4 separate regions of the Homo sapiens genome follow, and regions 1, 2 and 3 are each linked to region 4. The links come from fine-mapping of genetic effects on gene expression. A gene starts in region 4. Each other region holds a variant in brackets. All regions are shown on one strand. Distances are from middle to middle. Region 1 overlaps HSPA4 (heat shock protein family A (Hsp70) member 4). Region 2 has its middle 26 kb from the start of IRF1. Region 3 overlaps HSPA4 (heat shock protein family A (Hsp70) member 4). Region 4 holds the start of HSPA4 (heat shock protein family A (Hsp70) member 4).

The links. PIP is the estimated chance that this variant, and not a neighbour inherited with it, causes the effect.
Region 1: its variant is fine-mapped to the expression of HSPA4 in whole blood (INTERVAL, PIP above 0.99).
Region 2: its variant is fine-mapped to the expression of HSPA4 in monocytes after triphosphate RNA (Kim-Hellmuth 2017, PIP 0.95).
Region 3: its variant is fine-mapped to the expression of HSPA4 in whole blood (INTERVAL, PIP above 0.99).

The regions. Positions count from the first base shown.
Region 1 is chr5:133,088,094-133,096,093 of GRCh38, forward strand. HSPA4 (heat shock protein family A (Hsp70) member 4) reads left to right here. Exons shown (of 19, transcript NM_002154.4): 9 at 311-462; 10 at 962-1,068; 11 at 1,469-1,602; 12 at 3,100-3,281; 13 at 4,607-4,696. Among named protein-coding and RNA genes, the nearest start is that of HSPA4, 40 kb to the left of the region's middle. The variant GTT/G (reference allele first, on the strand shown) is at 3,066.
Region 2 is chr5:132,512,699-132,520,914 of GRCh38, forward strand. No RefSeq gene overlaps it. Among named protein-coding and RNA genes, the nearest start is that of IRF1, 26 kb to the left of the region's middle. RefSeq lists an enhancer at 8,078-8,216. The variant C/CA (reference allele first, on the strand shown) is at 4,309.
Region 3 is chr5:133,069,270-133,077,269 of GRCh38, forward strand. It overlaps HSPA4 (heat shock protein family A (Hsp70) member 4), which reads left to right. Exons shown (of 19, transcript NM_002154.4): 4 at 1,105-1,227; 5 at 3,961-4,060; 6 at 4,724-4,857; 7 at 7,385-7,629. Among named protein-coding and RNA genes, the nearest start is that of HSPA4, 21 kb to the left of the region's middle. The variant T/C (reference allele first, on the strand shown) is at 3,622.
Region 4 is chr5:133,048,083-133,056,269 of GRCh38, forward strand. It overlaps HSPA4 (heat shock protein family A (Hsp70) member 4), which reads left to right and starts at 3,931. Exons shown (of 19, transcript NM_002154.4): 1 at 3,931-4,275. The coding sequence starts at 4,169. RefSeq lists enhancers at 3,218-4,180, 3,367-3,416, 3,487-3,536, 3,727-3,906, 5,145-6,107.

The DNA.
Region 1 (8,000 bases), 40 kb after region 4:
TTTTAACACTTGTTTGTGTGAGATTGTGTGAGAAATTCAGGACCTGTACACTGCAGTACATTTGAGGATTCCTGGCCCTCACCTCCTAAATCCCACTAGCTACCCTTCCCCCATTATTTTGAGAATTAAAACACCTACTTGTTTCCAGATGCCACCTGCCTCTGTGAGTGTGGGCATGAGTATGTGTGTGTTGCGGAGGTGGGTGAGGGAGTTGGAGGAGTTTTGTTACACATCTGAGTTATTTCATCATGGTAAGATGTTATTGTTCTTTCATTTCATTAAAAAAATCTGTCTAATTCTTTAAAAATAGAGTTAAAGAAAGAAGATATTTATGCAGTGGAGATAGTTGGTGGTGCTACACGAATCCCTGCGGTAAAAGAGAAGATCAGCAAATTTTTCGGTAAAGAACTTAGTACAACATTAAATGCTGATGAAGCTGTCACTCGAGGCTGTGCATTGCAGGTGAATATTCTTTCTTTTATAGGTAACCATTTATAAATCATTGTAACAAGATGGCAGTGGTTTATGTATCTAATAACCTGGGATTAGCTCAGGGTGACTTCAGGGTGTTGAGATTCCAAAACCTTTGTTTTAAAATAGAGGTGATGTTCCTAAAAATAATTGTACTCTATAGCACATAAGATGAATTAATTGACTAGAAACATAGGTAACTCTGAGCCTGAAGTATGACTGGAAGTTTGGCCTGTTATGTATGTCTGTATGAAATAGTGTACATTAATTAAATAAGGGTTGGGGTTAATAGAAAAATAAGGAATAGCTAGATTATATAGGTAATTGACATGATAGAAGTTTGTAAAACTGTTCAGACACCATTAAATTACTAATATAAATATTTTAAAAAGACCATTGATTTTCTGAAGTAATTTGTATGTTTAAGTGATATTATCAGTTTATATTGTCTATACTTGTTAAACGGAATTTTTGAAAATTATTATTCTAGTGTGCCATCTTATCGCCTGCTTTCAAAGTCAGAGAATTTTCTATCACTGATGTAGTACCATATCCAATATCTCTGAGATGGAATTCTCCAGCTGAAGAAGGGTCAAGGTATCATGTTTATTAATCATTTACATATCTAAAGTTAATTGACTATTAGGTCTGAGTAATATGTTGCTTTTCATTTCAGTTTACATAAATCTGTAACATTTTATCATAGTGCATGAAGGAAGTGGTCATTTATTTTAGTCAGAATAAATTTGTGTCCTTAATTAGTTTCTCACACTTGATTCTGCTGAAATCATCAGTGCCTTTTATGTGCAGATTGACGTATATTCCTTTTTTACTGACTTTATATATAAAGATTCTTGGGAACTCTTATAATCTGGAAATAATACCAATTGAAAAGAGAGAGAAACTAACACTGTACAATAATTACAAACCTAGAACACATGGGTAAAAGTGTTAGGAATATCCTGAATTTGTGTTTTTGTCTTTTTCCTCCATTCAGTGACTGTGAAGTCTTTTCCAAAAATCATGCTGCTCCTTTCTCTAAAGTTCTTACATTTTATAGAAAGGAACCTTTCACTCTTGAGGCCTACTACAGCTCTCCTCAGGATTTGCCCTATCCAGATCCTGCTATAGGTAAGTAAAGAGTTGGAAATTAAAAAAGAAAAAAAAAAAAAAGCACAGTGGCTCACAACTGTAATCCCAACACTTTGAAAGGCTAAGGTGGGAGGATCACTTGAGCTGAGGAGTTCGAGATCAGCCTGGGCAACATAGTGGGACCCTGTCTCCATTTAAACAACAACAAAAAAAAGCTTATCTACTTGGAGAGTTCGCATAGTAGAAAGAACAAGTATGGTATTCTGAAATTTAGGGGCTTTAGATTGCAAAAGAAAACCTCTTCCAGTCTCGTTAGCAGGTTTAGAACCAGCCAAATGGCTGTTATTTAATTGGATCTCCCATTGTATCGGCAGTTTTTCTTGGTTAGCGCACATTGTAATTATAACTTATGTATAAGGTGGTGCTATATACTATAAGGAGTTAACGAAATTCAGTTTGGACCCTAACATACAGTTATAAGATGTATATAGAAAATAGCCAGGTGCGGTGGCTCACGCCTGTAATCCCAGCACTTTGGGAGGCCAAGGCGGGCAGGTCAGGAGATCGAGACCATCCTGGCTAACATGGTGAAACCCCGTCTCTACTAAAAAAATACAAAAAAAAATTAGCCAGGTGTGGTGGCGGGCGCCTGTAATCCCAGCTACTTGGGAGGCTGAGGCAGGAGACTGGCGTGAACTCGGTAGGCAGAGCTTGCAGTGAGCTGAGATCACGCCACTGCACTCCAGCCTAGGCGACAGAGCGAGACTCTGTCTCAAAAAAAAAAAAAAAAAAAAAAAAAGGATGTATATAGAAAATCATTAGGAGATGGTGATACAATATCAAAACATACTAGGTTTCAGAACCGTGTTATCTAGAGTAGTTATAGACTCTGGGAAACTCTTATCTGGAAATAATACTAGTTGAGAAGAGATAGAAACTAGTTATAGTATAAAGACCTAGAATATATGGGTAAAGAAATTAGGAGTATCCTGAATGGCATTTAGAAGCTGTGGAAAGTTAACCTATTCTTTTTTCCCCATCTGTAAATCTGTAAAACCAGGAATAACAATGATAATTCATACTTTGCAGAGTTCTGGGAATGAAGAAAATGTAAATAAAAACCTTGTACAGTCACTGGACCTAGAAATGGCAATTTACTGATAAACGACAAGCAGAGTGGAATCATTTTTTTTTTCTGTTTTGTTTTTTGAGTAGAGAATGTGACAAATCTGTTTTAGGAATTAATCTGAAAGTAGCATATAAAGATAAATGGAAATAAGAAATTGGAAGAAAGGAAAGAATCGGGAGATATTTGAGTTCTTAATTGGGGCAGGATAAGATAATAAGAGACTGTGAAAGAAGAAAGAGAAATCTGATGATTTAATAAGATTCTAAAAGGACCGATTTTGCTTATTTTAAGCATCATGTTACTGAGCTATCATTGAAAGTAGACATAATCTAGCAATGTAGGCATATATTCATGCTTGAATTCATCCTCTTAG[GTT/G]ATGTGTTCTTTTGTCTCTCGTATGTCCCTAGCTCAGTTTTCAGTTCAGAAAGTCACTCCTCAGTCTGATGGCTCCAGTTCAAAAGTGAAAGTCAAAGTTCGAGTAAATGTCCATGGCATTTTCAGTGTGTCCAGTGCATCTTTAGTGGAGGTTCACAAGTCTGAGGAAAATGAGGAGCCAATGGAAACAGATCAGAATGCAAAGGAGGAAGAGGTAATCTAGACATTGTATACCACTTGTGATGGCCCAGAGGTGACTTGTCTAGAAATTGTAGCAAGCAGACTTGGTGGCAAGGCCGGAGCATTGTGACAGAGCTGCTGAGTGAGAGTGGGTTTGTATGTTTGCCCTTCCCCCAATATAAGTGAACCAGCAGTAGATTTTTATGCAGAATTTGTATAGAAGTGGAACACAAGTTGATTTCTTCTTTCAGATCATACACTTCTCAACTTGAGTTATTCCTGATTCTGGTTGTTGAAGAGTGCTCTGAGTCTCAGTTAATTATTTTCAAAAGTAGAATTGATTGTACACTCATTTGTTGGAATTATGCACTGGGTCTTGTCTTCATTGTGCATCAGAATCAAAGCTTTACAAAACTACAAATTACCTATGATTCCAGCACTTTGGGAGGCTGAGGCAGGAAGATTGCTTGAGCCCAGAAGTTTGAGGCCAGCCTGGGCAACAAAGTGAGACCCTCATCTCTACAAAAAGTTAAAAACAACAACAACAACAACAAAAAAACTAGCCAGGTGTGGTGGCACACACCTGTGGTCCCACCTGCATGGGAGGCTGAGGCAGGAGGATTGCGTGAGCCTAGGAGGTCAAGGCTGCAGTGAGTCCTGTTTGCGCCACTGCACTCTAGCCTATGTGTCAGAGTGTGACCCTGCCTCAAGGAAAACAAAACTACAAATGCTTGGGTTTCATCCCCACAGATTTTACTGAAGTTGGTCTGAGCTGAGGTAGCAGTAGTTTTAAAAGCCTCTCAGGTCATTCTAATATGTTGCAGGCATTGAGAAGCCACTGGTTCAGGCTCTCCACAAACCTTCTTTCATTGTTATTTTTAGGCTTTGTAATTTTAACGTGTTCGCCTCCCCGAGCACATGCAGTGGTCATACTTTTGAGGATGAAGAGAGGCTGACTTAGGAACTATTTGAAAAAGTTGGAACTTTTGAGAGAAAATACCTTTGAGGAAGCCTGGAGAAGCTTATGCTCTCTTCAGGTTGTATTTTGTAGATTGTATTAAATGATGCCACATTGTGAACTGTGAGTACTTAATGGTGTACAAAGCAGTTCCACAGTTATTCTTGTGTATGTAAGGGTAGGGCAGGGCGAGTGTTATCCTCATTGTACAGATGTATTAACTAAGATCCAGAGCGGAAAACTTCTGTGTCCTAGGTAATGTGGCCTACCTGGAATTTTAGCATAGGCCTTCTGATTGCTGGTAATTCAGCAGGAATTACATAACTATGTGACTTTGTCAATGTGTAATGAAGGTTGTTTAGTCTTCCTAATTGCAGGATTTAATTTGACCTGTTTTTCAGAAGATGCAAGTGGACCAGGAGGAACCACATGTTGAAGAGCAACAGCAGCAGACACCAGCAGAAAATAAGGCAGAGTCTGAAGAAATGGAGGTATGCATTGGGTGGTGTTTTTTTTTTTTTTTTTTTTTTTTTTTTTTTTGAGACAGAGTTTCAGTCTGTTGCCCAGGCTGGAGTGCAGTGACATGATCTCGGCTCGCTGCATCCTCCACCTCCTGGGTTCAAGTGATTCTCCTACCTCAGCCTGCTGAGTAGCTGGGATTACAGACGCCCACCACCACGGCAGCTATTTTTTTTTTTTTTTTGTATTTTTTAGTAGAGTTAGGGTTTCACTGTGTTGGCTAGGCAGGTCTCGAACTTCTGACCTCAGGTGATCCACCTGTCTTGTCCTCCCAAAGTGCTAGTATTACAGGCGTGAGCCACCACACCCGGCTGAGTTGTGTTTTAGAGTATGCACTGCAGTCTTTTTAAAGTACATGGTTTTGGCTGAGGGGCAGTGTCTTGAAAGATAGTTATACTAGAAACTCTTAATTTATTTGAACAATTTTTTTAGGAAGATTTTGTAGTGATTTGTAATGTGCTATTTGCAAGATGGCCTTTAAACTCTCTCCTGGTTGATACATGGGAAGAAAGCACTCAGGAATCCTAGTTTTACTAGGCTAGTGATTTATTTATGCTAGTTTCTGAATGGCTTATACTAAGTCTTTCTACCCATAATTTAATTCATTACTGATAAACAATAATGAAACTGAAAAAATTTTCAAAATCATCAATGATCCATGCCTTTTACTTTTTAATCTTTTTATTTTTTTGAGATGGACTCTAGCTCTGTCGCCCAGGCTGGAGTACAGTGGCATGATCTCGGCTCACTGCAGCCCCCGCCTTCCAGGTTCAAGCGATTCTTATGCCTCAGCCTCCTGGGTAGCTGGGACTACAGGCGTGCACCATCACGCCCGGATAATTTCTGTATTTTTAGTAGAGACAGGGTTTCTCCATGTTGGCCAGGCTGGTGTTGAACTCCTGACCTCAAGTGATCCTCCCACTTCAGCACCCTGGGATTACAGGCATGAGCCACTGCGCCCAGCCAAAATAACAACTTTTAATAAAAAGGCATGGGGCCTGGTTCAGTGGTTCATGCTTGTAATCCCAGCACTTTGAGAGGCCGAGGTGGGTGGATCACTTGGGGTCAGGAGTGAGACCAGCCTGGCCAACATGGTGAAACCCCGTCTCTACTAAAAATACAAAATTTATCCCAGTGGGGTGGTACACGCTGGTAGCTCCAGCCACCCAGGAGGCTGAGGCATGAGAATTGTTTGAACCTGGGAGATGGAGGTTATGTGAGCTGAGATTGTGCCACTGCACTCCAATTTGGGCGACAGAGCAAGACTCCATCTTAAAAAGTTATTTTAAATAATGGAATAATGGATTTAAATATATTTTGTGATTAATGTAAATAATGTATTTATTTCAAAAAGAGTAGTAACATTTTTGAATCCTTTACAACCTATTCTTTAATTTTGAGTTGTCATGTTTAAATTTTTTTATCATTGAAAATATCTTTTATTTATAAAATTACAATGTATAATCTCACCATCTTAGGAGTTTCTAATTTTAAAAAGTTTCTAATTTTTACAAATTTCTAATTTAAAAGTGACATTTAAAAAAGTTGGACAGAACCTTAAAGTGGCTTAAGTCCGTTGTATATTTTCATGTCAATTAACAAAATTTAATTGCTTTTCTTTAGCTGTGCAAGTAATATTAAAAAGGAAAATGGACAGGAAATGGTGCTTACAGATTCTTTAGTTGGGTCAGGCCTTTTTCAAGATGGAAGACCCTTTATGTTGTTGGGTGGGATGGGGGCAGCAGTGGCAGAGACAAGGACTTGTTCTCCTATATGTTTGTGGAAGGTGGGTGAAGAGAAGGGAGAAGTGACGGCTGCTTCCCCAATGCCTTTGAGCTGTGGGAGGGGGTTTTAGAGGTATTAGTTATCTAGGCTTCCTTGGGATGGCTCAGAAACTAAAGTGCCTTTTGCATAGCATTGCTTCTAAAGGCAAATGAAATAGAAATGATAGATAAATTTCAGCAGCCGACTTAAGTTAGTTATAGGAGGTGGGAAATGACATTAAGGTTTTGCTTTATCATAGAACAAATTGAATTCCAGATGAATTCTAAAGTTGAAAGTTGAAAAAGCTTGAAGTGAATATTTTTCTAATCTGTGGATGAGGAAGGGCTTTCAGAGTATGAAAGCAACATAAGTAATCTCAAAGGAAAAGATGGATAGATTTGACAGTCAAAACTTATATGTAGACAAATAATACAGTTAGAAAAAACTAGAAGAGTCGCTGTGGCTCACACCTGTAATCCAGCACTTTGGGAGGCTGAGGCAGCGGATCACCTAAGGTCAGGAGTTCGAGACCAGCCTAGCCAACATGGTGAAACCCCATCTCTACTAAAAATACAAAAATTAGCTGGGCAGGAGCCTGTAATCCCAGCTACTCAGGAGGCTGAGGCAGGAGAATCTCTTGAACCTGAGAGGCAGAGGTTGCAGTGAGCTCAGATTGTGCCATTGCACTCCAGCCTGGGCTACAGAGCGAGACTCCATCTCAAAAAAACAAACAAAAAAAACTAGAAGAGTCAGTTGTTTGTGGGGGAAAGAAACACTGCAATCCTAAGAGAAGAGTGGATAAAATATTACTAGGCAGTTTGAGGAAATAGTTACATATGGCTTGTAAGTGTCTGAAAAAGGTTAAAAGAAACTCATACTGAATAACAGTGAGATGATGTTAAATGAATTCTCATTTGTGGACAGGGTGCAGTGGAATGAGTTTTTTCCTTGTGAGAATATAAATAGTTACAGACATTATAGAAATCAAATTACCAATATGTTACTACTGATCCATAGATATTTCATACCCTCCTCCTCACTAACTTCATTTGAATGTCTATATGTTTAAATAAAGGTAGAAAAATTTTTAATAGTAATTATATATTGATACGGGATTGTAGGAGATATGTATTTTATAAAATTTACCATCTTAACTGCTTTTAAGTGTACCATTCAGTAGTGTTAAGTAGATAGACATTGTGGTGTAACCAATCTTCAGAACTTCATCTTGAAAAACTGAAACTCTATACCCATTAAATAACTTTCCATTATTCCCCTCCCCCATCCCCTGACAGCCACTATTCTGCTTCCATTTTTATGAATTTGACTGCTCTAGATACCTCATTGTATTTACTTATTTTTTATTTTCTAGATGTTATGGTAGTCCTAAGTTACTTAGATCATCATCAAAAGAGAACGAAGTAAAAAAAGCAAAAACAGTTTTCCAACATGACTCATTTTGAAGTTTAAGGTAGTCTGTATATGTGTTTGTTCTTAATGATTTCTATTGTT
Region 2 (8,216 bases), 540 kb before region 4:
CAATAAAAGCCACCAAACCTAACAGACATCTACAGAACATTTCATTCAATGACAGCAGAATACATATTATTCTTCTCTGCACATGGAAATATTCTATAGAAGAGACATTGTGTTAGGCCACAAAACAAGTCTCAATAAATTAGACAAGATTGAAATCAAACAGGGCCAGGTGTGGTGCCTCACACCTGGAATCCCAGCACTTTGGGAGGCCGAGACAGGCAGATCACCCGAGGTCAGGAGTTCGAGACCAGCCTGACCAACATGGTGAAACCCCACCTCTACTAAAAATACAAAATTAGCTGGGCGTAGTGGTGCATGCCTGTAATCCCAGCTACTCGAGGGGCTGAGGCAGGAGAATTGCTTGAACTCAGGAGGTGGAGGTTGCAGTGAGCCGAGATCACACCATTGCACTTCAGCCTGGGCAACAAGAGCGAAACTCCATCTCAAAAAAAAAAAAGAAAAAAAAGAAATCAAATAAAATATCTTCTCCTACGAAAAAGGAATGAAATTAGAAAGCAACAACAAAAAGAAATCTGGCAAATACACAAATATGTGGAAATTAAACAATGTACTTTTCAAGAACCCATAGGGCAAAGAAGAAATCAAAAGGGAAATTACAAAATATTTTAAGATGAATGAAAATGAAAATACAATGTACCCAAATTGATAGAATACAGTAAAAGCAGTGTTCAGAGGAAAATTTACACCTTTACAGTTACATTTTAAAAAAAGAAAGATCTCAAATTAATAACCTAACCTTCCATTTTAAGGTGCTAGAAAAAGAAGAGCAAACTAAACCTAAAGCAAGAAGAAGAGAGGAAATAATAAAAGTTAGCGCAGAGATAAACAAAATAGAGAATAGAACAACAATAGAAAAGTTAAAAACTGACAAGCCTATAGTTTGACTGACCAAAAGAGAAAGAGAGAGAAGACTCAAATTACTAAAATAAAAAATGAAAGTGGGGACATTACTACAGACCTTACCAACAAAAGATTATAAGAGAATACTATGAGCAATGTATGCCAAAAAATTAGATAACTTAGATAACATTGACAAATTCCTAGAAACACATAAACTACCAAAACTGACTCAAGAGAAAATAGAAAACTACAGACCAATATACTTTATGAACATAGATGAAAAAGTCCTTAATAAAATACTAGCAAACCAAATACAGCAACGTATTAAAAGGATTATATTCCATGACAAAGTGGGATTTCTCCCAGGAACGTAACAGTTATTAAACATACAAAAATTAATCTGTGGGGGGAGGAGCCAAGATGGCCGAATAGGAACAGCTCCAGTCTACAGCTCCCAGCGTGAGCGACGCAGAAGACGGGTGATTTCTGCATTTCCATCTGAGGTACCGGGTTCATCTCACTAGGGAGTGCCAGACAGTGGGCGCAGGCCAGTGTGTGCATGCACCGTGCGCGAGCCGAAGCAGGGCGAGGCATTGCCTCACCTGGGAAGCACAAGGGGTCAGGGAGTTCCCTTTCCGAGTCAAAGAAAGGGGTGACGAACGCACCTGGAAAATCGGGTCACTCCCACCCGAATATTGCGCTTTTCAGACCGGCTTAAAAAACGGTGCACCACGAGACTATATCCCACACCTGGCTGAGAGGGTCCTACGCCCACGGAATCTCGCTGATTGCTGGCACAGCAGTCTGAGATTAAACTGCAAGGCGGCAACGAGGCTGGGGGAGGGGCGCCCACCATTGCCCAGGCTTGCTTAGGTAAACAAAGCAGCCGGGAAGCTCGAACTGGGTGGAGCCCACCACAGCTCAAGGAGGCCTGCCTGCCTCTGTAGGCTCCACCTCTAGGGGCAGGGCACAGACAAACAAAAAGACAGCAGTAACCTCTGCAGACTTAAGTGTCCCTGTCTGACAGCTTTGAAGAGAGCAGTGGTTCTCCCAGCACGCAGCTGGAGATCTGAGAACGGGCAGACTGCCTCCTCAAGTGGGTCCCTGACCCCTGACCCCCGAGCAGCCTAACTGGGAGGCACCCCCCAGCAGGGGCACACTGACACCTCACACGGCAGGGTATTCCAACAGACCTGCAGCTGAGGGTCCTGTCTGTTAGAAGGAAAACTAACAACCAGAAAGGACATCTACACCGAAAACCCATCTGTACATCACCATCATCAAAGACCAAAAGTAGATAAAACCACAAAGATGGGGAAAAAACAGAACAGAAAAACTGGAAACTCTAAAACGCAGAGCGCCTCTCCTCCTCCAAAGGAACGCAGTTCCTCACCAGCAACGGAACAAAGCTGGATGGAGAATGATTTTGACGAGCTGAGAGAAGAAGGCTTCAGATGATCAAATTACTCTGAGCTACGGGAGGACATTCAAACCAAAGGCAAAGAAGTTGAAAACTTTGAAAAAAATTTAGAAGAATGTATAACTAGAATAACCAATACAGAGAAGTGCTTAAAGGAGCTGATGGAGCTGAAAACCAAGGCTCGAGAACTACGTGAAGAATGCAGAAGCCTCAGGAGCCAATGCGATCAACTGGAAGAAAGGGTATCAGCGATGGAAGATGAAATGAATGAAATGAAGCGAGAAGGGAAGTTTAGAGAAAAAATAATAAAAAGAAATGAGCAAAGCCTCCAAGAAATATGGGACTATGTGAAAAGACCAAATCTACGTCTGATTGGTGTACCTGAAAGTGATGTGGAGAATGGAACCAAGTTGGAAAACACTCTGCAGGATATTATCCAGGAGAACTTCCCCAATCTAGCAAGGCAGGCCAACGTTCAGATTCAGGAAATACAGAGAACGCCACAAAGATACTCCTCGAGAAGAGCAACTCCAAGACACATAATTGTCAGATTCACCAAAGTTGAAATGAAGGAAAAAATGTTAAGGGCAGCCAGAGAGAAAGGTCGGGTTACCCTCAAAGGAAAGCCCATCAGACTAACAGCGGATCTCTTGGCAGAAACTCTACAAGCCAGAAGAGAGTGGGGGCCAATATTCAACATTCTTAAAGAAAAGAATTTTCAACCCAGAATTTCATATCCAGCCAAACTAAGCTTCATAAGTGAAGGAGAAATAAAATACTTTATAGACAAGCAAATGCTGAGAGATTTTGTCACCACCAGGCCTGCCCTAAAAGAGCTCCTGAAGGAAGCGCTAAACATGGAAAGGAACAACCGGTACCAGCCGCTGCAAAATCATGCCAAAATGTAAAGACCATCGAGACTAGGAAGAAACTGCATCAACTAACGAGCAAAAGCACCAGCTAACATCATAATGACAGGATCAAATTCACACATAACAATATTAACTTTAAATATAAATGGACTAAATTCTGCAATTAAAAGACACAGACTGGCAAGTTGGATAAAGAGTCAAGACCCATCAGTGTGCTGTATTCAGGAAACCCATCTCACGTGCAGAGACACACATAGGCTCAAAATAAAAGGATGGAGGAAGATCTACCAAGCCAATGGAAAACAAAAAAAGGCAGGGGTTGCAATCCTAGTCTCTGATAAAACAGACTTTAAACCAACAAAGATCAAAAGAGACAAAGAAGGCCATTACATAATGGTAAAGGGATCAATTCAACAAGAAGAGCTAACTATCCTAAATATTTATGCACCGAATACAGGAGCACCCAGATTCATAAAGCAAGTCCTGAGTGACCTACAAAGAGACTTAGACTCCCACACATTAATAATGGGAGACTTTAACACCCCACTGTCAACATTAGACAGATCAACGAGACAGAAAGTCAACAAGGATACCCAGGAATTGAACTCAGCTCTGCACCAAGCAGACCTAATAGACATCTACAGAACTCTCCACCCCAAATCAACAGAATATACATTTTTTTCAACACCACACCACACCTATTCCAAAATTGACCACATAGTTGGAAGTAAAGCTCTCCTCAGCAAATGTAAAAGAACAGAAATTATAACAAACTATCTCTCAGACCACAGTGCAATCAAACTAGAACTCAGGATTAAGAATCTCACTCAAAGCCGCTCAACTACATGGAAACTGAACAACCTGCTCCTGAATGACTACTGGGTACATAACGAAATGAAGGCAGAAATAAAGATGTTCTTTGAAACCAACGAGAACAAAGACACCACATACCAGAATCTCTGGGACGCATTCAAAGCAGTGTGTAGAGGGAAATTTATAGCACTAAATGCCTATAAGAGAAAGCAGGAAAGATCCAAAATTGACACCCTAACATCACAATTAAAAGAACTAGAAAAGCAAGAGCAAACACATTCAAAAGCTAGCAGAAGGCAAGAAATAACTAAAATCAGAGCAGAACTGAAGGAAAGAGAGACA[C/CA]AAAAAACCCTTCAAAAAATCAATGAATCCAGGAGCTGGTTTTTTGAAAGGATCAACAAAATTGATAGACCGCTAGCAAGACTAATAAAGAAAAAAAGAGAGAAGAATCAAATAGACACAATAAAAAATGATAAAGGGGATATCACCACCAATCCCACAGAAATACAAACTACCATCAGAGAATACTACAAACACCTCTACGCAAATAAACTAGAAAATCTAGAAGAAATGGATACATTCCTCGACACATACACTCTCCCAAGACTAAACCAGGAAGAAGTTGAATCTCTGAATAGACCAATAACAGGATCTGAAATTGTGGCAATAATCAATAGTTTACCAACCAAAAAGAGTCCAGGACCAGATGGATTCACAGCTGAATTCTACCAGAGGTACAAGGAGGAGCTGGTACCATTCCTTCTGAAACTATTCCAATCAATAGAAAAAGAAGGAATCCTCCCTAACTCATTTTATGAGGCCAGCATCATTCTGATACCAAAGCCGGGCAGAGACACAACCAAAAAAGAGAATTTTAGACCAATATCCTTGATGAATATTGATGCAAAAATCCTCAATAAAATACTGGCAAATCGAATCCAGCAGCACATCAAAAAGCTTATCCACCATGATCAAGTGGGCTTCATCCCTGGGATGCAAGGCTGGTTCAATATACGCAAATCAATAAATGTAATCCAGCATATAAACAGAGCCAAAGACAAAAACCACATGATTATCTCAATAGATGCAGAAAAAGCCTTTGACAAAATTCAACAACCCTTCATGCTAAAAACTCTCAATAAATTAGGTATTGATGGGACGTATTTCAAAATAATAAGAGCTATCTATGACAAACCCACAGCCAATATCATACTGAATGGGCAAAAACTGGAAGCATTCCCTTTGAAAACTGGCACAAGACAGGGATGCCCTCTCTCACCGCTCCTATTCAACATAGTGTTGGAAGTTCTGGCCAGGGCAATCAGGCAGGAGAAGGAAATAAAGGGTATTCAATTAGGAAAAGAGGAAGTCAAATTGTCCCTGTTTGCAGACGACATGATTGTTTATCTAGAAAACCCCATCGTCTCAGCCCAAAATCTCCTTAAGCTGATAAGCAACTTCAGCAAAGTCTCAGGATACAAAATCAATGTACAAAAATCACAAGCATTCTTATACACCAACAACAGACAAACAGAGAGCCAAATCATGAGTGAACTCCCATTCACAATTGCTTCAAAGAGAATAAAATACCTAGGAATCCAACTTACAAGGGATGTGAAGGACCTCTTCAAGGAGAACTACAAACCACTGCTCAAGGAAATAAAAGAGGACACAAACAAATGGAAGAACATTCCATGCTCCTGGGTAGGAAGAATCAATATCGTGAAAATGGCCATACTGCCCAAGGTAATTTACAGATTCAATGCCATCCCCATCAAGCTACCAATGACTTTCTTCACAGAATTGGAAAAAACTACTTTAAAGTTCATATGGAACCAAAAAAGAGCCCGCATCGCCAAGTCAATCCTAAGCCAAAAGAACAAAGCTGGAGGCATCACACTACCTGACTTCAAACTATACTACAAGGCTACAGTAACCAAAACAGCATGGTACTGGTACCAAAACAGAGATATAGATCAATGGAACAGAACAGAGCCCTCAGAAATAATGCCGCATATCTACAACTATCTGATCTTTGACAAACCTGAGAAAAACAAGCAATGGGGAAAGGATTCCCTATTTAATAAATGGTGCTGGGAAAACTGGCTAGCCATATGTAGAAAGCTGAAACTGGATCCCTTCCTTACACCTTATACAAAAATCAATTCAAGATGGATTAAAGATTTAAACATTAGACCTAAAACCATAAAAACCCTAGAAGAAAACCTAGGCATTACCATTCAGGACATAGGCGTGGGCAAGGACTTCATGTCCAAAACACCAAAAGCAATGGTAACAAAAGCCAAAATTGACAAATGGGATCTAATTAAACTAAAGAGCTTCTGCACAGCAAAAGAAACTACCATCAGAGTGAACAGGCAACCTACAACATGGGAGAAAATTTTCGCAACCTACTCATCTGACAAAGGGCTAATATCCAGAATCTACAATGAACTCAAACAAATTTACAAGAAAAAAACAAACAACCCCATCAAAAAGTGGGCAAAGGACATGAACAGACACTTCTCAAAAGAAGACATTTATGCAGCCAAAAAACACATGAAAAAATGCTCATCATCACTGGCCATCAGAGAAATGCAAATCAAAACCACTATGAGATATCATCTCACACCAGTTAGAATGGCAATCATTAAAAAGTCAGGAAACAACAGGTGCTGGAGAGGATGTGGAGAAATAGGAACACTTTTACACTGTTGGTGGGACTGTAAACTAGTTCAACCATTGTGGAAGTCAGTGTGGCGATTCCTCAGGGATCTAGAACTAGAAATACCATTTGACCCAGCCATCCCATTACTGGGTATATACCCAAATGACTATAAATCATGCTGCTATAAAGACACATGCACACGTATGTTTATTGCGGCATTATTCACAATAGCAAAGACTTGGAACCAACCCAAATGTCCAACAACGATAGACTGGATTAAGAAAATGTGGCACATATACACCATGGAATACTATGCAGCCATAAAAAATGATGAGTTCGTGTCCTTTGTAGGGACATGGATGAAATTGGAAACCATCATTCTCAGTAAACTATCGCAAGAACAAAAAACCAAACACCGCATATTCTCACTCATAGGTGGGAATTGAACAATGAGATCACATGGACACAGGAAGGGGAATATCACACTCTGGGGACTGTGGTGGGGTCGGGGGATGGGGGAGGGATAGCATTGGGAGATATACCTAATGCTAGATGACGAGTTAGTGGGTGCAGCGCACCAGCATGGCACATGTATACATATGTAACTAACCTGCACAATGTGCACATGTACCCTAAAACTTAAAGTATAATAATAATAAAAAAAAAATTAATCTGTGTAATCCACCATGCTAAATGTATGAAGAGGAAAAATCTCTTTAGCTTTGACTGATGCAGATATCAATGCAGAAAACACATTTGACAGAATCCAATTATTGGGTATAATCTTTTTAAATGCTCAATAAACTACAAATAGAAGGGAACTCTTCAACCTGATCAAAGATAAGATTTACACCATTATAAAAGAGCAAGTTTGGGCTCCTTTTGCCTCTTTGCCCTTCCACCTTCTGTGACATGATGATGTAGCAGGTGCCTTACTGGCACCTTGATCTTGGACTTCCCAGCCTCCAGAACTATGGGAAAATAAATTTCCATTCACTATAAATTACCCAGTCTCAGGTATGCTGTTATAGCAGCACAAAACAGACTAAGATATATTCCTTATTGAACAGAAATGCAAAATCCTCAATAAGACATTAGTAAATTAAATCCAGGAACATATATAAAGGAGCATACACCATGACCAAATGGGATTATCCCAGGAATTTAAAGAAATTTAATACCCCATGCTAATAGAACAGAATAAAGGACAAAAACCATATGATTGGGCTGGGCATAGTGGTTCAAGCTTGTAAACTCAGCATTTTGGGAGGTTGAAGTGGGTGGATCACCTGAGGTCAGGAGTTCAAGACCAGCCTGACCAACATGGTGAAACCCCATTTCTACTAAAAATACAAAATTAGCTGGGCATGGTGGCACATGCCTGTAATCCCAGCTACTCGGGAGGCTGAGGGAGGAGAATCTCTTGAAGCCAGGAGGCAGAGGTTGCAGTTAGCCCAGATCACACCATTGCACTCCAGCCTAGGCAACAAGAGTGAAACTCCGTCTTAAAAAAAAAAAAAAATCATCTTACTAGGTACAGAAAAAGCATCTGACCAAATCTAATACCCATTCATGATTTAGC
Region 3 (8,000 bases), 21 kb after region 4:
GAGACAATATCACTGTGTCACCTAGGCTGGAGTGCAGTGGCACGATGTAGGTTTACTGCAACCTCTGCCTCCTGGGTTCAAGCAATTCTCATGCTTCAGTCTCCCTAGTAGCTGGGATTACAGGCATGGACCATCATGCCCAGCTAATTTTTTGTGTTTTTAGTAGAGATGGGGTTTCACCATTTTGGTCACGCTGGTCTTGAACTCCTAACCTCAAGTGATTTGCCCGCCTCAGCCTCCCAAAATGCTGGGACTACAGGTGTGAGCCACTGCACCTAGCCCATCTTTTATTATTTAATTCAACCAGTATATATTGTGCCAGGTCCTGTTCTAGGTGCTGGAGCTATGGCAGTGAACAATCAGACAAATGCATGTCCTCATATTAGATTGAATCCTAATTGTGGAGATGGATAATAAACAGTAAACACATTAAAATACACATAGTATGTCAGATAGTAAAATAGTTTCTACCAGCAGCCTCTTTATGGAGGGACAGTGTGGGTCATGGTGAGCTACACTGATTTGTCTTTGCAAAGGAAGTTGTCTTAAGATTTGTTGTTTTACACTGTGGTCCTTCATCTCCAAGTATCGTGTTTGGTTGAAAGCTAAAATAGGCTATGCGTGGTGGCTCATGCCTGTAATCCCAGCACTTTGGGAGGCCGAGGCAGGAGGATTCCTTGAAGCCAGGAGTTTTGAGACCAGCATCGGCAACAAAGCAAGAACCCTGTCTCTGCAAGAAAAAAATAAATTAGCTAGGTATGGTGACATGTGCTTTTGCTCCCCGCTACTTGGGAGGCTGAGGCAGGAGGATTGCTTAAACCCAGGAGGTTAAGTCTCCAGTGAGCTGTGATCATGCCACGGCGCTCCAGAGAGAGAGAATGACAGAGAGAGAGACCCTGCCTCCAAAATAATAATAATAATAAAAAAAGAAGCTAAAAGTGACCTTCAAGGTATTACTTCGAAAACTAGCTTTTTTTTTTTTTCAATCCCCTCTTGAGATAATGTTGCATTGATAATGGGAAGCATTGTTCATTTTAGCTTTTAGGACTAGGACATGAAGAAAGAAATATAATAAGTCTAGGCCCCTTTGTTGTTTTCTTGCAGGTGACATATATGGAGGAAGAGCGAAATTTTACCACTGAGCAAGTGACTGCCATGCTTTTGTCCAAACTGAAGGAGACAGCCGAAAGTGTTCTTAAGAAGCCTGTAGTTGACTGTGTTGTTTCGGTGAGTTTGATCCCTATACATTATTGGGAATTTGCATGAAGAAGCAGAGAGAAGAAAGCTGCTAATTTCAAGTAAACTTGTTTTTTTGTCTCAGGTTGTAATGGTTATTTAAAATGTTTGTCAGGCCGGGTGCAGTGGCTCACGCCTGTAATCCCAGCACTTTGGGAGGCCAAGGTGGGTGGATCACCTGAGGTCAGGAGTTCGAGACCAGCCTGGCCAACATGGTAAAACCCCGTCTCTACTAAAAATACAAAAATTAGTTGGGCGTGGTGATGGGCACCTGTAATCCCAGCTATTCGGGAGGCTGAGGCAGGAGAATCACTTCAACCCGGGAGGCTGAGGTTGCGGTGAGCCGAGATCATGCCATTGCACTTCGGCCTGGGTGACAAGAGCAAAACTCTGTTTCAAAGAAAAAAAAAATTTATGAAACTAGTCTTCATTTTCTTACTCTCTTCTGCTGCTTAGCTTTTGCTCAGGCCTCCTTTGTTATTCTGCCTATTTAAATCTCTTCTGTTTTTCAAGGTGCATTCATCTCAGCCTGCCCACTTCTTCCTGTATTTTTTTCATCGCCTAGCATAGCACAGGGTAGCCACTCATTTGTTGAATTAGTTGGATACCCCTAATTGTAAATGGCACTTGTTCTGTATTTGTATTTGCTGTTGGTATCTAGCGTTAAAGACAAAGGCAAGGACTGGGCATGGTGGTTTAATCCCAGCACTGTGGGAGGCCAGGGCAGGAAGATTGTTTGAGACCAGCCTGGGCAACACAATGAGATCCCTGTCTTTACCAAAAAAAAAAAAAAAAAAAAAAAAAAATTAGCTGGGCATGGTGGCACACACCTGTAGTCCCAGCTACTTGGGAGGCTCATTCGAGCCCAGGAGTTTGAGGCTGCAGTGAGCTGTGATCACACCACTGCATTCTAGCCTGGACAACAGACTGAGACCCTGTCTCAAAAAACTTATCCAAAAAACAAAGACATGGCAGCAGTTGACTTTATCTTTTGCATATCCCTGTTAAGATGGAAGCCTGGCTACTGTAGTTTTGTGCTTTAGTTTGGTGGAATCCTTAGGGACTGTTGAAATATGTGTGGTTACATTGGCTTTGCCACCGAATCTCCTCATTCTGTAATTGTTACCTGATACTTTAGTTTCATGGCCTCTTTTGTCTTAATGTTGGTGCATTGATTGGCAAAGCAAGGACTGTTAGGTGGCTTTTTCACCCCAGAGTCTGTTGCCTGGCGGATTTCTTGGTCCTTGGTTATTGTAAAGTAGAATTGACATTTGTCAGAAAGAATTGGATTATAGTTGTGTACACCATTCTGGGGGTGGGCTTTATTCTTTATAGAAGAATGAAAATTCTGTGTTCCTTTAAAAAGCTCAGATTCAGTGACCTTGATTCCCCAGTGGCTGATACACCAGATCCTGTATTTCTTAGATGTTTCCTACCTTTCCTCAGCTCTTCCATTGGTCTCCCAGATTTGTTTCCATTCCTCCATCTAGTGCCCCTAGCTTTGATCCTGCATAACACTCTGTGTGGGAGTAAAATTTATGTAAAATATTGGAATGCGTAAGTGTCTTCCAGTTTTGGGTATCAAGTTAAAAGGTGATAGTGTTGAGTCATGTTTGGGTGGGGCCTCAAGATCACACTGGAGTTTTGGTAATTTGCTTAGGAGGGTTCACGGGCCCTAGCGTATAGCTATTCTCATGCTAAGATTTATTGTAGTGAAGGGATACAAAGCAAAATCAACAAAGGGAAAAGGCACATGAGGCAGAGTCTGGAGGAAACCAGGCACAAGCTTCCCAGAGTCAGCCTGTGCTTAACTCCAGCAACAGGTTGTAACAATACGGGTGAAATGTCCTCTACCACAGGAGTTCTGCCTAGCCTGGTCCAGGGTTGTTTTTTTTTTTTTTTTTTTTTTTGGAGACTGAGTTTCGCTCTTGTTTCCCAGCTGGGAGTGCAGTGGCATGATCTTGGCTCACTGCAGCTTCCACCTCCCAGGTTCAAGCCTCAACCTTTGGAGTAGCTGGGATTACAGGCATGTGCCACCACACCCAGCTAGTGGTTTATTTTTTTTTTTTTTTTGTATTTTTTGTAGAGATGGGGTTTCACCATGTTGGCCAGGCTGGTCTCAAACTCGTGACATCAGGTGATCCACCCACCACGGCCCCCCAAAGTGCTGGGATTACAGGCGTGAGCCACCACGCCTGGCTAGTCCATGGTTTTCATCAGGGGTCTGTCACATTGGTACCCTATACCTAGCATGAACCAAAATTCCAACTCCCAGAAGGAAAGCCGGTAGTCAGCACAAGCTGCATGTTTATATAAACAGTTTAGGTACAGTGAACCACTCTTAATCATTTAGGGAAATTTTTTCTATTGATTTAGTGAACTGTT[T/C]GCAAATCAAGGTCCTAGATGCCAGGCAAGGACCAACATGCAAGCAGGTGTTTTCTAAGGATAGCAGTTTCTGGCCTTTATATTAACTCTTCTCTGCAGTCACTACTTCAGCTGTTGGTATTTTGGTCTGCCATGTAATGAGTATATGTAAGGTAATGGTACGGCTATTTGTTTATCCTAACACTGCTTACTAAATATTCTAACTTTTCCCTACTAGTTTGAAATATTTTCTTGATCATATACAGAATAAATTGCTGTAGGTATTTGATGGTGTTCCTGGATTTTACTAACTAAAATTAGAATCTATAATACAGTAAGCATTCTTTTTTTTTTTTGTAGGTTCCTTGTTTCTATACTGATGCAGAAAGACGATCAGTGATGGATGCAACACAGATTGCTGGTCTTAATTGCTTGCGATTAATGAATGAAACCACTGCAGGTAAGGAGGACCGTTGATTATTTTTTTGACTTGGTTAATCTTGAAGATTGTGAAATTTTAAAACCCTGGGGTTTCTTGCTCTTTATTTTGCTTTCAGCACTGCTGCTCTTGCTTACCACTGTGGTCATGGTGTTTTTGGATACTGTGTCACTTGTGAAGAATTAATCTGACCAGTGCTTTTTGTGTACCTTTATAGCATGCATTTTGGTATTTAAACACATGCTTGTTGGGGAAGGAGAACACTTAGCGTGTGGAGCAGTGCTTTGGGTTAAAGACTGGTCTTCTCTTAGACTTGTGGACTGGTAGAGTCAGAGGAATGGGACATTAAGCAGCATCTCATGGACAGAACATGCGGGGATGTTAACATAGCATAGGGGTAGAAAAGATCCAGGAAAATATATTTGGAAAATGGGGGAAATGGCTTGGAGAAAATTATGCCAAAGTCCATTGGCAACTGTAAGGAAGTCTAAGTGAATATCAGTATTTAACTCTTGGAAGATAATCTTTTTCTTGAATAAATTATACAGTGCTTATAAAGAATTTGATTTCTAAAACATAACACATGTAGTTGCATTCGTTATATATAAAACCTCTTTTTTCCTGCTTAAATGAATTTTATTTACTTAGACGTTATTTTTAATTTTTGTGTTTTTTCTTCTGTAGTTGCTCTTGCATATGGAATCTATAAGCAGGATCTTCCTGCCTTAGAAGAGAAACCAAGAAATGTAGTTTTTGTAGACATGGGCCACTCTGCTTATCAAGTTTCTGTATGTGCATTTAATAGAGGAAAACTGAAAGTAAGTATATATTTTTTTTCCAGAAGACTGTTAGTAGTATGGTAATTATGAAATTTTGAGAGACAATGATTTTTTCTCATCTACAATATGGGAGAAACAATGCATACCTTACAGGGTTATTCAGAGGATTTTTTTTCTTTTCTTTCTTTTTTTTCTCTTTTTTTTTTTTGAGATAGAGTTTCGCTCTTGTTGCCCAGGCTGGAGTGCAATGGCGCGATCTTGGCTCACCGCAACCTCCACCTCCCAGGTTCAAGCGATTCTCCTGCCTCAGCCTCCCTAGTAGCTGGGATTACGGGCATGTGCCACCACGCCCGGCTAATTTTGTATTTTTAGTAGAGACGGGGTTTATCCATGTTGGTCAGGCTGGTCTCGAACTCCCGACCTGAGGTGATCCACCTGCCTCGGCCTCCCAAAGTGCTGGCATTACAGGCGTGAGCCACGGCGCCCAGCAGGAGGATTTTTTAACATGTAGTTCCTTGGTGAATTTTACACTGGGGATTGAGAGGGTGGTACAGGTGCTCTGTACTCTTGCTCATGAGGTTTTGAGTGTTCTGGAAAAGGGGTTTCTTTTGGATGCCAAAACAAACTGGACTAGGAATTATAGATTTCTAGAAAGCCTAAAGTTTAAGCAGTTTTGTACACACAGAAGTATAGAAGGCAAGGAGGGGCCAGAGGGTGATTGATCTCTGTCATAGTTGAGTTTGCTGGTTTATGCTAGTTCCACAGTAGGGTATAAAATTCTCTGTCTAGATGATTTTATCTAGAATTTGGTGAAGAACCAAGGATTTCTCAAGTGTTTGCTTTAATTATTTGAATTGTATATTAAAATTGTTGGTGCCAAGGTCTGAATTGACTGCCTTGTACCCATTGGAGATTGGTGGAGAGGGATTACCCCAAACTAAATATTTGGTAATTTTGGAGGCATTTTGAGACTTCATTTGTTATGGTCTTGTTTCTTTGAAAAATAGACGTTTCCACTTTATTTTCTGGTTTTATATTGTTTCTAGGTGGTTTTGTTTTTAAATAAAAAGAAAGCGAGTCTTTTAGATAATTGGGAAATGAGAGATTTGTGATTTTGCTTTTTGACAGCTATAAATGGTGGACCAAATGTAATTCTCAGTGTTTAAACTTTAATCACTAATAGAATTTCTAAGATCTATGCTATGCTTTCATCTTTTTAAACGGAAGACTCTGGTTATAATTTAGCCTGGCTTTGGATCAGAACGATGTGTATTAGTAGCCATCTGCTTCTGTTTTTCTAAATTGTCCTTCTGTGTTACCTGTCACCTGTCAGTTTTGCAATCCTTTTGATTACTTTTAAATTATAAAAATATTCATTACAAAAATCTCCCCAAATTGGAAAACATTTATGTGTAAAGACAAGTCTGGGCAACATGGTAAAACCCTGTCTCTACAAAAGTTAGCTGGGTGTGGCGGTGTGCTTGTAGTCCTAGCTACTCTGGAGGCTGAGGTGGGGGGATTGCTTGAGCCCGGAGTTTGAGAACAGCCTGGGCAACATGGCAAAACCCCGTCTCTACAAAGAAAATACAAAAATTAGCTGGATGTGGTGATGTGTGCCTGTAGTCCTAGCTACTTGGGATGCTGGGGTGGCGGGATTGCTTGAGCCTGGATGGTCGAGGCTACAGTGAGCTGAGATTGTGCCACTGCACTCCAGCCTGGGCAACAGAGTGAGACCCTGTCTCAAAAAAAAGAAAAAAAAATAAAGAAAAGTTACTTACAATCTTACCATTCTTAACAGCTTGATGTATTTCATTCTAATTTTCTAAGAAAACAGAATTGGAGTCACTATATTTAGCTCTGTGTCCTGTCTTTTTTTAAGTTAACATACTAAGAAAATTTCCCCCATGACGTGTAGCATTCTTTGAAGAGATTGTTTTTACTGGTTTTATTCCTTCATAAGGATGTCATCACTTATTTAGCCTAACTTCTATTACTGAATCTAATTAGATCTAGTTTGCTTCTAATCTGTTAGAGATTTGAAAACGGGTAACCCAGGCTAATTAGACTTCCAGGTTAAATAGAAACACATTGCGGTGAGCTAAGGCTTTAAGGAATCCTTTGGTAGTAAACTGCAGAGAGTTGAGCCTTTGGTATTACTCAGTTTTGTGATACTGAGTAGACTAGAAGTATGTACATGACATGTTAGTATATTTTACCTTGGACATGTAACTGCTATTGGTTGTCAGACTGGTGTAGTGGGGAGGGCATGGACTTTGGAATTAAGGAGATTTGGCTTTGAATTCCACTTCTACCACTTAGTAGCTTTGTGAACTGCAGTTTATCTCATCTGTCTAGGTCTGTAGCATTATCTGTAAATTGGGGATTATAGTGCCTATTTTTACAGTGTGGGGTAATAAGGATTAAATGATGTATACATTGCTTTGTTTTAACCTTAATGTAACCCTCCCTCTTTTTTTTTAGATAAACAACTTACCAGGTAAATATATATCATCTGTTTCAAAATCGATTGGTTAATTGTTAGATTAATTCTCATTTTTTCCTTAAGGTTCTGGCCACTGCATTTGACACGACATTGGGAGGTAGAAAATTTGATGAAGTGTTAGTAAATCACTTCTGTGAAGAATTTGGGAAGAAATACAAGCTAGACATTAAGTCCAAAATCCGTGCATTATTACGACTCTCTCAGGAGTGTGAGAAACTCAAGAAATTGATGAGTGCAAATGCTTCAGATCTCCCTTTGAGCATTGAATGTTTTATGAATGATGTTGATGTATCTGGAACTATGAATAGGTAAGTATATTACTATTTCGATGTTAAAGTGAAGAGTGAGTTTTCTCCACATATATTAACCTTTAATTGGCTAATTGTTAAAATAATCACGGAGGTTATATGATAATTTTGGTTCTATTTTAAAAATTAGAAGCCATTCAGGACCCTGCTTTTTATGTAAAGTTGGGTCTGGTTAATAATGTAGACTAATGTTTTTGTTCTGATAAATTGAATATTCCAACATGTTGATAGTTCTTTACATATGCATTTGTTATACACGAGATTTCAGTTTCCAAAAAATCAGGGCAAAGGGCTGTAATGCAGAATTAAATTGAATTTAATTTACCCAGTGACTAAGAAATTGTAATTTTTTTTTTGAGATGGAGGTTTTT
Region 4 (8,187 bases):
AATGGACCAATTGGCACTCTGTAAAATGGACCAATCAGCAGGATGTGGGTGGGGCCAGATAAAGGAATAAAAGCAGGCTGCGTGCCCCCCACCTTCCCCAACAACCAGCAGCGCAACCTGGTCAGGTCCCCTTCCACACTGTGAAAGTTTTGTTCTTTTGCTCTTCACAATAGATCTTGCTGCTGCTCACTCTTTGAGACTGCGCTGCCTTTAAAAGCTATAACACTCACTGCAAAGTTCTACAGCTTCACTCCCGAAGTCAGCGTAGAACACGAACCCACCAGAAGGAAGAAACTTCAGACACGTCCGAACAGCAGAAGGAACAAACTCTGGACACACCATCTTTAAGAAATGTAACACCGCGAGGGTCTGCAGCTTCATTCTTGAAGTTAGGGAGACCAAGAACCTACCAATTCTGGACACACTGGGATTACAGGCATGAGCCACTGTGCCTGGCTAAGAGATCCTCATTTTTACAAAAAAATGAAAAAATGAGTTGTATGTGGCAGCACATGCCTGTAGTCCTAGCTACTCAGGAGGCTGAGGTGGGAGGATTGTTTGAGCCCAGGCTGCAGTGAGCTATGAACGTGACACTGCACTCCAGTCTGGGTGACAGAAAGCGATCATCTAAAAGAAGAAATAGAGAAGCAGTGTAGTTGTGAGAAAATTGTGTGACCTTGAACAAGTACCTTAACCTTATCAGGTCTCTATAAAATAGGAAAAATATCACCTACCTGATGGGCTTGCTATGACGAGTAAAGGAATTATATTGGTATCAATACAGTGTCTGGCGTAATGCTAGCATATGCTGTAGGAATGCCAGAGACATGGTAATTACCATTATTATTGAGTTATTGGAGTTTTGGTGTTTAAGAAAGGGTTGTTGCTTTGACTAAAAGCATTGCTCCACTCACTGTAAGATCAGGGAAGTCAGAAAATCACCATTATCTGAGCAGGTAGTTTCCTTGTGAAGCAAAAAATTGCAGAAGCTGCTCCAGAGCGTAGGGCAGGATTCCACTGGACACTTGTCAGGGAGAAATATGAGTCCCCAGCTGATGGAGAACCTTTTGTCTTTTGTTGGGCAGCCTATGAACACTGTATATTTAAAAACAAACACTTCTGTGATTGCTTAGGACTAAATTTAATCGTTGTATTTGAGAGTGGCATTTAACAACTTCCTGCTTTTAAAATACTTAAATACCTAAGATACTCTGCCAAATGGAAAGAATTTGTTCTCCGAACACAGTGCCTCCAACATTAAATATTCTGGACACTTCGTTGGTTCGCAACTGTGATACTTGGAAACTTGCCACGTTAGATTCTTCAGGATTCTAAAATAACCTTTTCCTGACTTCATTTATTTAAATATCCCAGAATAATCTCTTAAGCTATAAGTTTGATGATCCAGGAAACTATTTATAGGAGGATGAGTACTCTCTGTGACTGATGGTAGTTATGTTTTATTTTGAGAAGGACAAATCATTAAAAAGATTGATAGGGCTGGTGGTATTTTAAACTGAAAGCAGTACCAAGGCAAACAAGGCAGTTGAGGTATGAAGTTGGAACATAATAAGATATGGGTGTAATTTTCATCAACTTAGCTAAGACCTAGGGAGGTCTTCCAATAGAAGGAAGGCAGAAACAGGCAGTAACACAGACAGTGATCTTTTAGGTCCACTGGACACTTTAGCTTAGGCAGCTCGGGTTGTTTGCTCAGTGATTAACAACTGAGATAAACAGATGGAGACAGGACTCTGTCATAATTAAGGTCAACAGTGTGCTTGGTATTATTGATATTGCCCCTAGGTAGGAGAAAAACAGAGGAAGGAAGGTCAAGGTCAACCTAACTTAAAAAAACTTTAAAAAATTGTGGTGAAATATACATAAAATTTACCATTTTCATCATTTTTAAATGTACAAATCTGTCACTGATCATGCACATTGTTATGCAACTACCACCAGCATCTATCTCCAGAACTTTCTCATCTTCCCAAACTGAAACTCTGTATCCCTTAACTCTCCATTTCACTCTACTTGTGAAACCGCTTTTCTGTCTTTATGTAGTTTATTGTAGGTGCCTGATACAAGTGGAATCATATTAAATTTTGAATATAAAATTAAAAATTAAAAAAAATTAATTTTGATTTGTTTGGCTTTCCACTTAGCGTATTTTCAAGGTTCATTCATGCTGTAGCATTTATCAGACTTTCATTCCTTTGTCTTTTCAAAGCTGTATAATGTACTGTTACGCGTATACACTAAATTTAGAAAACTCATTCATCTGTCAATGGACATGTGGATTGTTTCCTCCTTTTAGCTACCGTGAATAAACTACTATGAACATGGGTATACAATGTACAAATATGTCCCTGCTCTCGTTTTTCCAAAGGCTGTTCCTGGCTGCCTCTACTCTTTTTATTCCCAGTACCCTTTTACAGGTAGCACCTGGTACTTGTCTTTGAAGAATTAACAGGTTTTAGTTAGGCAAAATGTGAGAACAGTGTGGCCATTTGCAAGTTTTAATGGTAATCAACCCGGGTTTGGGGTTGCTCCTATAGAGTGAAGTACCTCCGGAGGTGGCAGGAAATGCAGGTATTTAAAGGGAAGGGCATACCAGGGCAATGTAATTTCTTCTTTGCTCATTCACTTTTAAAATGGCTGAAGGGCAGGTACTCTAGCCTTGAGACCTTCAACTCATGATGTACCCTCCAGCAACGGAGAATTTCTTTTTAGTCCTTAAACTATGGTCTCTATTGCTAGTTTTCCAAACTTGAACACAGCCTTTTCCTTTTCTGGGAAGTTGTCCTAGTCTCCACCATTCTGTGCATATAGCACTCGCCATTCTGTACTGGGGTCACCTTTACTTGTTTAGCCACCCTCATGATGGGGATGATCCAGGTTTTGCAGAGGTGAAACTTATATACCATTGGGGGGCCCTACAAATACACAAAACAAATAATTAAAACGACAAATCACAACACATTACTAGAGACTTGGAGATTCAGATTCTCCTTAGATCTCTCTGGGTAATTTATTAGAAATGCTTACATAGATTTGCTTCCTAATCTCAAGCTGGCTTCCCCTCTCCACAACTCAGCAACTATCTATTCTCCCAGGAGGCCATACAAGCGAGGGGCCCTGAAGCTTAACATTTATTAACTTCATGTAAAGGTCTGAGCGGACCTTTCAGGCCAGGCAGCGTGTCACTTGCCTGTGTTCCTTGTTAGGGCCTACCACCGGGTAGGTGCTTGGAATGTGCTGTGGATTAAAGGCTTAAATCCTGCGGGCCCCTCAATCTGATCTAAGGACATGAGTGGCTTAGAGAACGGCGCAACAAGGCTAAGCGAAAGAAAACAAAGCGGTGTGGCTGGGAGTGGGCTCCTTCCCTCCGCTGGTGAGGGTGCGATCTTAGACTCTTGAGAGAACCCGACATAAAGGCCGCGTTCCAATGGCGGCCTTCTCCCCTACCGGCCAACCTGCCCCGAAAAGAGCAGAAGGCACCCTGCGGGATCTGCAGATCAGCTTGCGTCTCATTCTGGGGCACCGACACGGTGGAATGCAAGACACCCCACTACCGGAAGTTTCTTTGATGTTAAGAAAAACGGCGGAAGTAGGCCGCAGCGCTTCCTCAGTATAGTGCCTCGAGCTGGCTCGCCTACTTTCTACGGTAAAGGGAGGTGCTCCACATCTCTATGCAGCTGTGCAGCGCCGCAGGTTCCATGCGCAGGCTCGGTTGGCTAAATGCGCTTTCCAGCCATCTTTCAGCCACCCAGTCCTTTCCCAGGTTCTCGAGCCAGGACGTGACGTATTCAGACGTACTGGGGGCGGGGCCTCAAGGGGAAAAGCGCCTGAGCCGGGATATCGCGAGAACATCCCGTTCTTTCGTAGCTCTGGTGCTGCGGCTCCGCTCTCGTCGCAACGAGATCTTTCGAGATCTTCTCCGCCCCCGCTACCGGCGCCTCCTCTGCGGCCACTGAGCCGGAGCCGGCCTGAGCAGCGCTCTCGGTTGCAGTACCCACTGGAAGGACTTAGGCGCTCGCGTGGACACCGCAAGCCCCTCAGTAGCCTCGGCCCAAGAGGCCTGCTTTCCACTCGCTAGCCCCGCCGGGGGTCCGTGTCCTGTCTCGGTGGCCGGACCCGGGCCCGAGCCCGAGCAGTAGCCGGCGCCATGTCGGTGGTGGGCATAGACCTGGGCTTCCAGAGCTGCTACGTCGCTGTGGCCCGCGCCGGCGGCATCGAGACTATCGCTAATGAGTATAGCGACCGCTGCACGCCGTAAGTGTGGGCCGGGCCTGCCGCGTGCACTGGGGTTAGGAGATAATGCTTGTTCCAGTCTGGGACCCTCGCTGCTTGGGGAACGCGGGCCGAGGAGTCGCCTCCGTTCCGAGCCGAGGTCCCGGTAGGTCAGGGACCCCCAGTAGGTATTAGGACACTAGGGGCCGCGGCCCACTATGAGCGTGGGTGTGTGCTAAGCGCGAGGGCCTTTTCCCCGGTGGCCCGTCGGCCGAAGAAAGGCTTCTGGCCGGTACTCGGACCAGCGGAGGGCACGGGTAGGAACTGGAAGGACTGCAGGCCTAGGATGTAAACGGATCGCGGTCCTTTTCTTGAGGGCAGAGACCAGGCCCAGGTCGTACTGAGTCTTTTGAGTCCAACAGAAAGCTCAGAACTTTGCACACAGCAGGCGCTTAATAATAGTTGAATCGAACGGGTTCTGGGGCTTGCCAGCCGCGAGACCGTGGAGCGGTCAGCGTCCCACGTGAGTGGGGGCGGGGCAGCGCCCGGAAGAGAGCGAGCTGGAGCAGCCTCAGGCACGGGTTCCGGATGGACTCGGGGTCTTGAGATTGGGTTGGCACGGATAGGAATTTAATAAAATCGGTGCTCTTATGATAACTTTGCAATCGCTTTTGTTTTCCACATTATTTCGGGATATTGTGCTATATTGGGTCACTCTCTGTTTTGTGCGCGTTAACCCCTCAATAGGGTTGCACTTTAACGATAATGCATTCTAACCAGTGTGTTGGCCACAATTGTTAGTGGCTCAAGGGCCCGCCTTGACTTCTAGAACCCATAGTAAGTTTTGGGACCAGCATAGACACAGTTCTAAAAAATGGTGGGTCACTCAGGTCTTTCACTGGTTACAGTGTCTGCCTTTTGAATACTTGTAGATACATTTTAATCCGTTGTCGTGTTCTTAGACAAAATCTTGTAAGAAGTTCTGTATTATTTGCCATTCAGGGTCTCTCTTCTTTTTTTTTTTTTTTTTTTCTTTTTTGAGACAGACAGGGTCTCACTCTGGCTGCCCAGGCTGGAGTGCAGTGGTGCGATCTTGGTTCACTGCAGCCTCGACCTCCCTGGCTCCTGGCTCAGGTGATTCTCCCACCTCAGCCTCCTGAGTAGCTGGCGTTGCAGGCGTGCGCCACCATGCTTGGCTAATTTTATTTATTTTTAGTAGAAATCGGGTTTCACTATGTCACTCAGGATGGTCTCGAACTTCTGGACTCAAGCAGTCCTCCAGCCTCGGCCTTCTGGAGTACTGGGCTTACAGGCATGAACCACCGTGCCCTGCCCAGGGGCTCACTTGTTATTGATTGATTGAGATGGAGTCTCGCTCTGTCGCCCCAGGCTGGAGTGCAGTGGCATGCTCTCGGCTCATTGCAACCTCGGCCTCTGGGGTTCATGCGATTCTCCTGCCTCAGTCTCCTGAGGAGCTGGGATTACAGGCGCGTGCTACCATGCCCGGCTAAATTTTGTATTTTTAGTAGAGACGGGGTGTTGTCGAGTTGCCCAGGCTGGTCTCGAACTCCTGACCTCAAGTGATCCTCCCGCCTCGGCCTCCCAAAGTGCTAGGATTACAGGCGTGAGTCACGGTGCCCGGCCCCAGGGGCTCAATTCTAAGGTCCATTATTTTCACCCTCAATTTTTGTCACATTTCTTCAGCAGGTTTCAGCGAAACTAGATTGTTCAGAAGTCTCACATTTCCTTTCCACTTGTCAAATTTCCGCACCCCCCACCTCCTAACCCAGGTGCTTCCCCTGAAAACTCATCCCAGAAGCCAAAACGGTAGTTTGCTGTCCCTTTGCTGAGTTTAGTCTTGTTAACAGCCCTATTAAGGTTTATTTATTTATTTATTTATTTTGAGAAAAGGAGTCTTACTCTGTTCCCTACGCTGGAGTGCAGTGGCGTAATCTCGGCTCACTGCAGCCTCCGCCTCCTGGGTTCAAGCGATTCTCCTGCGTCAGCCTCCCGAGTAGCTGGGATTACAGGTGTGCGCCACCACGCCTGGCTAATTTTTGTCTTTTTTAGTAGAGACAGGGTTTCACCATGTTGGCCAGGGTGGGCTCGAACTCTTGACCTCAAGTGATCTGCCTGCCTCGGCTTTCCAAAGTGCTGGGTTTACAGGAGTGAGCCACCGCACCTGGCACAGCTTTATTAAGGTTTAATTCATATACTATACAATTTAACCAGATGAAGTGATCGTTTTTAGTGTAGTCACAAAACAGTGCAACCATTACTGTAATCAATTTTAGAACATTTTTATCACTCCCCCAAAGCCCTGTGCCCTTTAGCAGTTTATTTTCCCTATTTGTACTTTTTAACAATGGGTAGTCTAACTTGGCATCTCCAGGGAAGTGTATTGTGCCCTGAAGTTTTTTTTTAAGCATTAAAGTTTGTTTTTAAGCATTTTAGTATTTGAGAATATCTTTGTATCCGTGTTTTCTTGGTCTATAAAATGTCTCCCCTAAGGAACTGAAAAGGCTAAAGCGCTGAGTTAATGTATTTAGTGTTTTGGTCCTTTCCTGCCCTGTGATTGAACACGCTTTAGTTCCAAAGGGCGCACAGGAAGAGAATCCCAAGTATGGGGAAGAACAGTGTTCCTATCCTTTCTTTTAGATTATTATCACATGCTCCTGTTTTTCTTTTAGAAAGACAATAGCTACAACAATTATACCATGAATTCTATTTGAAACTGAGTTGTTGCAGATAAAAAATTTGCCTCAAAGACATTGTGATATATATGACCCCATACACCACGGAATTGTGATAAGAAAATTCCATTTAAATAATTTTCCTTACATGTTTTCTTTATATTTTCCTTCATAGTTTTCATTAACTTACAGGCATGCCATACATTTCAAGTGATTTCTGAACTGTATGATTTTGATTCACTTTGATTACTCTGTTTTGGAGTCTTGGGCTAAATAGAAAATGGTAGCAGGAAGGTTGATTTTTTTTTTTTTTTTTTTTTTTTTTTTTTTGGTAGCGGTTATGGAGGAATGGATTTGGAGCTCATATGTAAAAAAGACTGCATGTTGTGGGTTTGTTTTAACATGAGAGTGGAAATGAGATGCAAGTCTTAGAGGGTTTATGATGGTGGAAGTACCTCGTTTCAGATATGGGTGTAACAATCTGGATTAGGTTTTTGAGGAGCCAGTGGAGTCTCATCCAGAAGAGACCCTTGATTTTCCACCCAATTTAGGCTTCCTTCATTTTATCAGATGTTGAGTGCCTCTGATGTGGTAGCCATTTTTCTAAGCACTGGAGGTACTGTGGTGAACAAATAAGGTCATGCCATTATGGACATGGCTGGTGGATTAAACCAAATACTAAACAAAAATATGTAGTAATTACTAACTGTGGTAAAGGGCAAGGTGGAAAAGTACAGAATACAGTGAGAGTATAGAATAAGCGGGTCTAATTTAAATTGGATGGAAGGACCTGGCACGATAGCTCATGCCTGTAATCCCAGCACTCTGGGAGGCTGAGGTAGGAGGATCGCTTGAGGTCAGGAGTTCGCAACCAGCCTGGCCAACATGCTGGAACCCTGTCTCTACTAAAAATACAAAAATTAGCTGGGTGTGGTGGCGGGCGCCTGTGGTCCCAGCTACTCTGGAGGCTGAGGCAGAAGAATCGCTTGAACCTGGTAGGTGGAGGTTGCAGTGAACCGAGATCATGCACTGCACTCCAACCTAGGTGACAGAGCGAGACTCTGTCTCAAAAATAAGTTGGGTAGAAGGTGCTTTGAAAGAAGTACCATCTGAGACCTGAGGATGAGTAGGATTTTACCTTGGAGGTCACAGTAGGTTTGAGGAAGAGTTGTTCCAGGCAGAAGGAACAGCAAGTGGGAAAGACCTGAGCAAGAAGAGCTGCATCCTTGATACATTGAAGAGCAGCCACGACTCTTTCAGC